2 separate regions of the Homo sapiens genome follow, and region 1 is linked to region 2. The links come from fine-mapping of genetic effects on gene expression. A gene starts in region 2. The other region holds a variant in brackets. All regions are shown on one strand. Distances are from middle to middle.

Region 1 (5,377 bases), 66 kb after region 2:
GATAGTAATTGCTAGAGGCAGCTATCACTCCTGGGAATAGGGAAACTAAGAGAAGAGATGGGTTATCATAATTCAGATGCCCAGAGAAGAAGTATCCCGGGGCAGAAGTCAGATGTCAAAGGAGAGAGCCCTGCCTGGTTATTGCTAGTACTTCTAATGGGGCACAATGAAGTAGGTTTTGGGAAGAAGAAAAGTTAGACATTGGTTCCAAAATGTCATTGCAGGGCAAAGGGCCATCGTTGGAGCAACACTGAGAGGAAGAGCGGGCAAGAAGAATGGAATAAGTCCCTTTTCTGCTCCTCCTTGCAGTCTACTACCGACTTTAACAGGAAGTCATCTGGCAGGGAGACTGTAGCTTGCAGAATTCTAGCCCTAGAACATACAACACAGAGCACGGAAGACTGGATTTGGTGCATTTCTCTACCTCTAGCTTATCTTTCTGGTAATCAGTTTTCTGTTAGACTTCTCAATTAATAGCCAGCATTTATTGAACATTTACTATATGCCAAGTACAATTCTAAGCACTTTTAAACATTAACACATTTAATTCTCATAATGACATTTCAAATTGTTTACTATTATTATCTACATAATCCAAATGAGGAAACTGAGTTTCTAGAGATTTATGTCATTTGCCCAAAGGGATTAAAAGTAACTTATGTGGTAATTAATAGGTCATAGATTCAAACCCAGGGTCCCTAGAATCTGGTCTCTTTACCACTACAACTGCATACCTATTAAGCAGTGATTCTCAAGCTTAAACTTTTCACAATGTATAGAATGGAGAAGGTAAGGTTCCTTAAGTAAATGATTCTCAAACAGTAGTATGCATATGTAAGAATCATTAGGATTCCAGCACTCTCTCCCTAGAGACTGATTTGAAAGGTCTGAGATGGAGAAACTGAATTTTAAACTGTGAGCCCTAGACACCCACCCTGGCCCTGTGACTCTGATCTAATGTCTCTGGACCATTTGGACCACAATACTAACTTGGTAGGAGTTGGTGAGAGAAGAAGGGAGAAAGAGAATATACCTTGAAAAAGCTCTTCTGTACTCCAATTGAGAAGCACAGTCTTCAAACACAATTCTGATAGCATCATCTCTTGCTTAAAACCCTGAAATTGGTTCAACAAATTCTAATATTTTTTGAACAAATACTATGTGTCACGTGATATTCTAGGTGACTGTGACTGTACAGTGGCAGCCCCATTTGGTATCTCTGTGACCCTGGAGAAGATAAAAACTTCTTTGGCTTTAGTTTCCTTATCTGCATCTCTTATCTCTGGTAGAAGAGAGAACGGATCCTTGCAATGAAAGGCCACATGATTAGAGTACAACATGCTCCACTGACACTGCTAAACAAAACAGGATTATATGCTTCAAGGCTTTGTAGGTCACAATGAGAATTTTTGCTTTTACCCCAAGAGCAACAGGAACCCAAGGGAGGTTATTCAGCAGGAAGGTGCCATGCCCAGGGGTGTATAAATACTATACTAAAGTTGAATTAGCATTTCCTGTAGAACAAGGGAAATTAGTAATTACAGTCATATCAGTCTAATATTTTGAGGGTACTAAGTAAAGTTGTAATTAATATTTAAGACTTTCTATGTTCTATTTTCTAAGTAAGATGAAAAACCAAATTAAATCTTGCTTACTGGTATTAATCATAATCTCAACTCATTCCTGGAATTGTGAACTAATTTGTGTCCTATGTACATCTTAATTTAAGACTCTAGAAGTGTTAAGTGTCAGAAACCAAGTCTCAACTACAAAAAAAAATTTTTTATTAAGTGTGAAAGCAAAACAGGTACATCTATTTAAATATTTTTTACATATTTATAGATACAACAAAGACAAATAACTTAGCAAAAATTACAAGTTTAAAGAATAGTACTATTTTGAAACAGCCAATATAGTATCTGAAAATATTCCATTTTATCCATAATCAGTGAGTATTATTTCCAAAAAAAGTAACTTGCATTTTCTTGTGAAAAATATGGTTTTTTTTTTAGATGTCTGCCAAGATTTATCAGAAAAGTCCATCTTTCTAAACCTAAAAAATTGTAATGCCTTTATTGAGAACTTTTTTTACCTAATGGCTTTAAAAACCACGTGTTTTCCTTTGGACTTAGGTGAATTCTAAATCTTTACTTCACTTTCAAACTACAGGGCATCGACATAAACAAAAACAAATCAGATTGAGAGTTTTGGGTTGCTTTTCTTCATACTGAGCGAAGAACCTTCTCCCTGGCTGGGTGAAAGACCATGGTGTACTGTGATGTCCAATCTACCACACAGGGCTTCACCAAGCCAAAGCAGCCACACTGAAAGAAATCTGCCAGGTTCTGCATGAATCCAAGACTG[C/T]CAAGAAAAAAAAAAAGAGAACATGTCTTACTATATTTCCTGTGTAGCTTGACAAACATTTATGGAGAATCTATAATATGCAATGTCCTTTGAACATCTTGCAGAAATCCAGGGGTAGATGGGGTAGATCAGATAGTTCCTGGGCTTCTGGTACCTTAAAACTGAAGCCTATTTCTGGACCTGAATCTATATTTGGAGATTTCCTGGCTTCTGCTCGCTCAGCCACTTAATTGGGTTTTTCATCATCACTTCATTTTGGATTCCCCACTTAATGGACTGGCCACTGACATCAATAAGTTTCTTTCTTTCTATTCCTACTTCCCTAATTCAGACCTTGATTACCTCAAAGGCCACATAGGCCAGAACAACTGTAATCAACAAGATGGGATTTTCCCTAAACCTTTTTTTTTTTTTTTTTTTTTTTTTTTTGAGACGGAGTCTCGCTCTGTCACCCAGGCTGGAGTGCAGTGGCGTGATCTCGGCTCACTGCAAGCTCTACCTCCCAGGTTCACGCCATTCTCCTGCCTCAGCCTCCTGAGTAGCTGGGACTATAGGCGCCCACCACCACACCCGGCTAATTTTTTGTATTTTTTTAGTAGAGACGGGGTTTCACCGTGTTAGCCAGGATGGTCTCAATCTCCTGACCTCGTGATCCGCCCACCTCAGCCTCCCAAAGTGCTGGGATTACAGGCATGAGCCACCGCACCCGGCCTCCCTAAACCTTATAAGTAACTCTCTAAATGAATTCTCTGTCTCAATTCCTTTTAATTCATCTTGCATATTGCAGACTGTTGTCCTCCAAAAACCCTGATATAGTCATAGCCCCTCACCTCCCAATCAAAACCCTTTAAAGATACTCCTCTGCCTAGAGGCTCAAATAAACATTCCTCCTCTTTGTATTCAAGGCTCTATATAAGGTATCCCTCTAGTTCTAGCTCCTCTGTGCATCTTTATAAATCTCCTGCTCCAGCTACTCTGGCTCTATTTTTCCCATGATCATAGATGCGTGGGCCTGGAACGCACACTGCTCTACACTTAGCTCAGGAACCCCCTTATCCTTTCAAGTCCTACCAGTTCTCAAGGCCCAGGCCAATACCCACATTTCCACTGGAGCTTTCCTGACTGCACTGTCTTAGGCATCATTTTTTCTCCATTAAATTTCGGAAGTACCACTATCTATTCCAGTTATGAGAAATGCTCATTTTTACGCATATGCTCTATCTTTTAAGTGCCTAACCCAATCCCTTACACACAACAAAACACACCTGTCCATGAGGATGACTGCGTTGCTGTTTAGAAGATTGTGTTCTGCATGGGGATGATGGCATTGCTGCCAGTAAAGGACCAACACTACTCAGAGGGCAACTTCCTGGGAAGAAGGCTATGTGGAGTTGATGGGTTGGCAGTGGGGATGCATGCTAGAAATGTATAGGGCCTGGTTCAAAAGCTAGTTAGAGTAGTGTCCCCTTCCCCTTGGTTTCAGTTTCAGTTACCTGTGGTCAACAGCAGCCCAAAAATATTAAAATGAAAAATTCCAGAAATAAACAATTAGTAAGCTTTAACTTGCATGCCGTTCTGCGGAGCATGATGAAATCTCACGCCATCCAGCTCTGTCTGCCTGAGACATAAATCATCCCTTTGTCTGGTGTTTCCACTCTGTCTACACTACCTGCCTGTTGGGTTATCAGACTGAAATAACATGGTATATACCGAGTTCAGTACTATCTGCAGTTTCAGGCATCCATTGGGGTTCTTAGAACATATCCCTCATGGAGAAAGGGTGACTACTGTACTGAGTAAAAGTAACTTAGGGGAGGAAAACAAGTAAAATCTTTGGTTTGGGCGGGACTCAGGTTTTCCCTTGAGTTCCTCTAGTTGATGCTGCCATCATTCAGCAAACGTGCTCTAGTGCTCTCATGTGTCCCTCTATTCAGACTCTTCTCTAGGGCTTGGAATGCCCTTCCTCCCTCCCAACTCCATTGTGCCCTGCCCCACATCTCTCAAGGCTCAGCTTCAAATTCCAACTCTATCACAGGCTTCCATAGTTTAGTGGAGTAAACATTTATTCCTCTGGTTTAGCTACAAAGAAAGGGATTTTATTATCACTGTCAATGTGAAACAATCATCACAAGTTTACGCTCCTTTCCACTCGCCATTGCTTTAGCCACCTCTTCCCAGTTAAGTCAATTTCTCTCCTCTCCTAAATACACATTGTAGTTATATCCCAGTCTCTGATCCCCTTGTCTAACAGCCTAACAGTTTCATCTTGTACCAACAGCATGCTTTAAAATAGACTGCTCATGAGATATGCAGCGAGCATTCAAATCCCCAGAGGGCTCTGGGTCACCTCTGCAGCACTCCCAGTTTCCAAGACCCTGCCATAAGTGGCAGGGAGATAAGCTTCAAAGCCCAATCTTTCATATCGTAAGACGAAGGTCTTTCTATACATACTCTCATTTTCAACTGAAAACGTGTTTTATACAACCAAATGCTCCAGGGGGAACAAATCCAAATCTGAAAAATTGGCTTCTCCCTGGTACAAGAGGGCACATTCAACATAGGGCTAGAAGAATTAGTGGTGATAGAAAGCCAGGCTGAAAATCCTGGCAAAGCACACAAGTGAACGCTCTCTACAGAGCACCCTGTGGCTGGCTCTCTCAGCCATACACTTAATTATCTCACATCAACTCCACGCCAGCAACAAACAACCTTGTGACCATGTGGCTTGACTGGAGAGATTCCCCACCTTGGCAAAACTTCAAAGTCACTTACTATTTGTGCTGTGTCCAGTAAACTAACTCTCGAATTCTTACCACCGTGGGGCTCACGACTTTACCACTCACCCCATCACTAAAGCTTCTCTAAGAAAAGGGGGGTCAACTGTACTAGATGGCAAATTACAGAACAGCAGCATGGCCATGGGTAGTGGCACCAGCTTAGGAAACCAGTGACTAGGGATCTTCCACAGGACTCAGCATCCAAAACAGGTCTCGCTTACTTGTATGGTGTCTTC
Region 2 (5,377 bases):
GACAGCACAGAGTAGAAAAACTGGTCTAACTTCAGTGAGACACAGATTACACAACATGATGAACAAAAGACCAGAAACAAATACACAAATATTCCCTTGGATTATGTAACTAATAAGTGGAAAACATATTTGATGGGAAAATTAAAAAAAAAAAAAAGTTTCAAGCTTATGCCCTGATCCTTCCTTCTTGGTTATGCAGTAAACATAAAAGTTTTCAGTAGTCTTTTCCCTCCTTTACACTCATGCTGCATTTCAAATTGATACTCTACACAGTGATGAGTAGAACCTTTCTTTCTTTATTACCTTTCATTACATGAAAGTGTTGTTAAGACTTCAAAACTGTATCACTTCACTCTTAATAAAACCACTTTTCAACATATTCAATGAGTTTGACTATAATTTCACTTCCTTCAGTAAGACATGACAACTATCAGTAAGCAAGAATTACACTCTCACCTTCCTGTTTTTTTGTGTGTTTAGGGAGGGGTTGAAATGGTTAAGGGCTAGCCTGAGTTGGCACTAACATTGCTCTCACAGGAACTTTCAGAGGCAGTGGAATGGGATGTATGAACTTGGAGCAGGTAGACCTGGATTCTAATTCTGGCTCTGTAGCTAACTTGGCCATCAGTTTAACCCTTTTGTGCCTCAGTTTTCTTCTCTATAAAATGGGACACAACTATCCTATGAAGCAAGTAAGGATGAGCACGCCGCACAGTGGTGAACACAGCTTTCAGTGGAAAGCCCTGAGACGTTAAACACCCTTGGCTTCAAATCCCAGTCCTGTCCCTTACAGTTAGACCTTGGGTTTGTCACTTTAAAATGCTGCTTCCCTCTCAGAGTCATAACCCATGCTTTCACACCTGTGCTGAGTATGAAATGAGAGGCCATCTGTCAAGTGTCACCAGAGGTGGCTGCTCCCTGCATGATGTGCCTTACAGGTAACTGTCACTCAGACATCTGCAGCATGAATGGCCCTGTAGATCACAGATTTGAACGAATTAGTCACTATCTCTGAACACAGGTGCATGAGGCAGACTGCTTCTAAAGAACTTTAAAAGGGATTTATGGCCCACAGGACTCCGGGGCTGTAATAACTTCGGGTACATTAGGCATAGCTGAATCTATGCACTCTTGGGAGCGCTGACCATTCAGGGGGTTGGGGGAGATGACAATCTGGCCAACAGCTAGTGGCTAAAGCAGAAGCACCAACTCCCCACTTTTTGTTGATACATTTAGAACCCAGTCTTGCTCCAAAAAAGGGGTACCTGGGCTTAGTAAGAACCAGCCGCTCAGTGCTAGCAACGGTGGAACCCTATATAGTGACCTCTGCTTTATTTCAAATCTGCGAGCCACAGGCAGTGGCCCCTCTGCACAGTACCTGAAAGGCCTGCTTTCAGGTCGAAGCGCCTTCTTGAGCAAGACCTGCACCTCAGCTGGCGACGAAAGGGGGACAGGGACACGACGGCGCCAACATTCCAGGGCGGCCACACCGCAAGCCTGCGGTCGCGTTCCGCGGGGAGATGAGCCTTCGCTCGCCACGGAGACCCCTGGCCCTATGGCCGGCAGCTGCTGCGCTGCGACCCCAGCCTCAATATCATAGCATCCCCGCCCTCATCGCGTTTCGCAGAAAATAAAAATGCCTCGCCCTGCTAGTCAGCAATGGGAGAGTCACTGATCCCCAAGTTAGCGGTGGGAGTGGGGAAGTGTGGCCCCGGGCCCTGCTGGAGCCTAAAGACACGCGATTACAGAGGAGGACGAGCCAAACCGAGTCCAGATCGAGAGACCGGCGCCCAGATCTCGGCGCGGTTGGGCAACACTCAGCACCAGTCCGCAGAAAAGTCTAAGGCAGAGGAGAGCAAAGGGAGCCAACGCGGGCGCAAATGATCCAGGTGCAGCCGAGGCAGCGCCGCCGCCCCGGGCCTCGGTGTCCCGTTCTGCAAAGTGAGGACGAAGGATCGAAGTGTCTCCCCGACCCTGCTAGGGCTCTACAGGGAACCAGGCTAAAGCTGCCTGAGGCTCGGAGACCGGAAAAAGAGGGAAAGACAACAGGGAAGAGAAAGGGAGGAGTGGGTGGGAGACCCTGAGGAAAGACGGCGAGGACAGGGTTGGAGGGTTTTCCGCCTTCCTCCTCTTCCTCCTACACCTGAGTTCTCACCGCTGGGCCAAGGCCCAGAGCCCACGGAGCTTAGGCACCAGTAGCCAAGCTTCTCCCTCCTCGCGCCAGTTTCTGCGAGGCACGGGGCAGACGGTGGGCAGCACAATCATGCATGCCAGGGGTGCAAGGGGGAGAGGTCCGGCTGGAGTCCGAGGGCAGGTGAGCCGGCCTGGGGCTGGGCAGGGGTGAGATAGCCCCAAGCGGGGAATCGCAGGGCGCCTGCGGCCCAGCCCGCGAGCCCCGGACGGGCCAAATTTTATTCCCCAACTTTGAGCAAGGGGAGGGGGTGTATGCAAAAAAAAAAAAAAAGGAAAAAAAAGTTGCTGAACTTTTCCCCCAACTCTGCCGTAGAGGCGGGAGTGGAGGGCGGTGCCTGCACCGATTCGCCGGCGGCTACGGTCGGGAGGCTCGGATTGGCGCTCGGGGGCCGGGGCCGGGGCGAGCGGGCGTGGGGGAGGGGAGCGGCCCTCCCCGCCCGCGGTATCGGCTCGCGCCGGGAGCGGGTTAATTTCAAATCGGGGGCTTGGCTGCTCCTGGACGGTCACGCTCCCTCTGCCCGCCAGCCGGCCCGCCAGTCCCGGTCCCGGCGTCTCTCTCCGGCACCCACCTCGGCGCTGCGGAAAGACTGACTGCCAGGTACGCGGGCTCCCGGGCCTGAGAGGGGCAGCGGTGCTGACGAGTCCCGGCTCAGCCCCCGCCGGCTCCCGCCGTGAGGTGGACTGACAGGTCAGCGGGACGCAGAGGGGCGCGGCGCCCGGGCGACACGGCACCGGGAGAGGGCTCGGGAGGGTGGCGGCGGCGGCGGCGGCGGCCGTTTCCCGCCTCCCGCTTCGCCGGGGGCCGTGAGGGAGGAGCTGAGCTCCCGCGCAGAGGGGCGGGGGCGAACGAGGGGGAGGGGCGGGGTTGCCGTGGTTCCGGGCGCGGGTTTGCCCGCGCTCAGGCCCCGCGCAGCTAAGGGGAGGCGCCGGCCACGGTCCGACTTTCCGCGCCAAATTTTTAAATCGAAGGCGGAAGGTCCGGCCCCGCCCCTGGCGCCGTCGGCCAATCGCAGGCCCGCTTCCGGCCCTCTGATTGGTCGGGAATTGTTGTCCTGGAAACCACGATGATGCTGTCCGGGAACTGTCGGGACTGCGGCGGGCGGACAGGGCCTGGGGGAGGGGCCTTTGGCCGAAAGTTGGGGGAAGTGCACTGAGCGAGTGGCGGCCGGGGGACAGTACCTGCTTGCCTTATTGGGCAAATACAGCCTTCCAAGGTGGAGTCTAACGCCGTGGTGTGAACTGGCCACCCGAACAGGGAGTAAATAGTGCTTTGTATCTTTAAGGAAGCCCTTTTTTAAATTTAAAAAAAAAGTCTTAATTATAAGACTCTTTAAATGCCCAACTGCATACTTGGAGCTTTGGGACTGAATTTGGAACTTTCCTGTCAAGCGACCTCCCACGACTTTACTGCTGAGCCTGTGCACGTGTGTGTAAGGGGAGAAATCCAGGCATCTAGATGCAGACTTGTACCCAGTTACTTGGGGTCGCGTGCGCTCAGCTGGGACCTGGGCTCGTGCGCTTAGTCCGGAGCCCTGATCTGCGAACAGGTGGGTGCTTCCTAAAGTATTCGCTGGGGTCCGGAGAATGGCTCGCCTTTTCTACAGATGGGAGAGGGCTGTCACTAGAAATTCCGTGGGTTGCTTGAAGTCTTAGGACCGCCGATCCGTTTGCTGAAGGAATTTACTGGCATTTGTTGGCGTTCTCCGCTCAGTGGGGCGATCTCTGGTCGAGAATAAAATGTAAATCTAGTTTGTCATTTTTCGTTAGGCTTTGTTTCCGTAGCCTCTTGTCCGTGAAGGAATTTTCAACAGATCTTTTGGTTCTTGTTTTTCTCTAACTTTTTCTATTTCCTTTTTTCTTTAAGGATATTAAAACTTTTAGTACAATTGATTGGACTACTTGAACCATCGGGATTTGGGGAGGAACTCCAGATTTTTCATTTTTAAACTCTAAATGTATGAGGAATTTACAGAATGGAGAACGAAAAGGTACTTTATAACTTCAGTATTCATCATTGCAATTTTAAATTCAGTATCATCCTGATTTAACTCCATAATTTTTCCCTATCCAATGTGTTTTCTTAATGCCACAACCTTGGTTAGCCTCTGTAAAGACCTGGAAAAAATGAACCTTATCTTATAGTTTCAAAAATATATAGTTTAAAATATATACTAATTTAATTAATATAGTTTAAAAAATGAAAATTATCTTAAAAAGAAATTCAGTCTCCAATCATGTCAAATGCCCTTTCTGAATTCCAGTTGTTCAAGAATCCTCAGAAATGTTGTAATGAAACTAACAAATTTTATTATTCTTAAAAATACCTTTTCTCTCTTTATGTCTGAGACAGCTACCAAATCATTAAAAACTAGAAAGAGTGTAAAGGGGCAAACCTACCCCTCTTCAAAAATTCGTTAGTTTCATTACAACATTTCTGAGGATTCTTGAACAACTTGGAATTCAGAAAGGGCATTTGACATGTTTGGAGACTGAATTTCTTTTTAAGATAATTTTTTACCAAATTGGCAGCTTATTTATGGGGTCTGCAAAATGCTCTGTTTAGGGGGCAAACATTTTGTAAAATTACAAAAGAATTGTCTGTGGGGGGTGTCCAACTACTAATAGGTTTAAAAAAGTGAACTTACATGCATATTTCCTAATAGTTTTAGATGTTAGTCAAATAAGAGAATTACTATTGCTTCTGATAATCTGAGGCAAAGAAAAAGCCTATTGTCAGATCAGTACATCTCAGATGCACACACTGGCAAGGAGCTCCTGTTGGGTCCACCATACTGACTTCCATGTAAGAAGAGCACCATACTTGGAGTGAAAATATCTGTGTTCCACTCCTACGTGACCTCTCTCAGCCTGCATCTTCTCTTCTGCGAGCTAAGAATGCAGGATTCCATGAACATACAAACGGAAATGCACTTGATAAACCCAAGATGTCACAACATGTCCCATTTGTCCATGTTCTTAAAGTTATTTGGTCTGCCTATTATTTTACTTATTGCTGTTCCAAGCATTTTCTTTAAAATAGATAAAGATGGGAGTAGTGTGTGAAGTCCCTGGTGTCCAAAACTGGAAGGAACATAGTCTCCATTAGCCTTATTTATGAACTGCTGTTAATTTACCCTTTTGTCTCAGTGGCTATCCTGCTTCTGCCAGGATCTAGCTTTGTGGT

Which allele goes with the higher level. Alleles are on the strand shown, and positions count from the first base shown. SD is a standard deviation of normalised expression in the study named.
In carriers of allele T in region 1, the expression in prefrontal cortex of the gene that starts at base 3,343 in region 2 tends to be lower than with C alone (small effect, 0.35 SD a copy in CommonMind).

What was found. PIP is the estimated chance that this variant, and not a neighbour inherited with it, causes the effect. A credible set is the group of variants that fine-mapping cannot tell apart.
Region 1: its variant is the best candidate, but not a certain one, in a credible set for the expression of E2F8 in prefrontal cortex (CommonMind, PIP 0.88).

The regions. Positions count from the first base shown.
Region 1 is chr11:19,172,806-19,178,182 of GRCh38, reverse strand. ZDHHC13 (zDHHC palmitoyltransferase 13) reads right to left here. Exons shown (of 17, transcript NM_019028.3): 16 at 5,363-5,377; 17 at 1,768-2,361. The coding sequence ends at 2,223. Among named protein-coding and RNA genes, the nearest start is that of CSRP3-AS1, 21 kb to the left of the region's middle. RefSeq lists an enhancer at 3,194-5,377. The variant C/T (reference allele first, on the strand shown) is at 2,365.
Region 2 is chr11:19,238,911-19,244,287 of GRCh38, reverse strand. E2F8 (E2F transcription factor 8) reads left to right here and starts at 3,343. Exons shown (of 13, transcript NM_024680.4): 1 at 3,343-3,740; 2 at 4,058-4,181. The coding sequence starts at 4,167. All of the region lies in intron 1 of CSRP3-AS1 (CSRP3 and E2F8 antisense RNA 1), which reads right to left. RefSeq lists enhancers at 997-1,566, 1,567-2,138, 2,344-2,453 and a silencer at 2,574-3,273.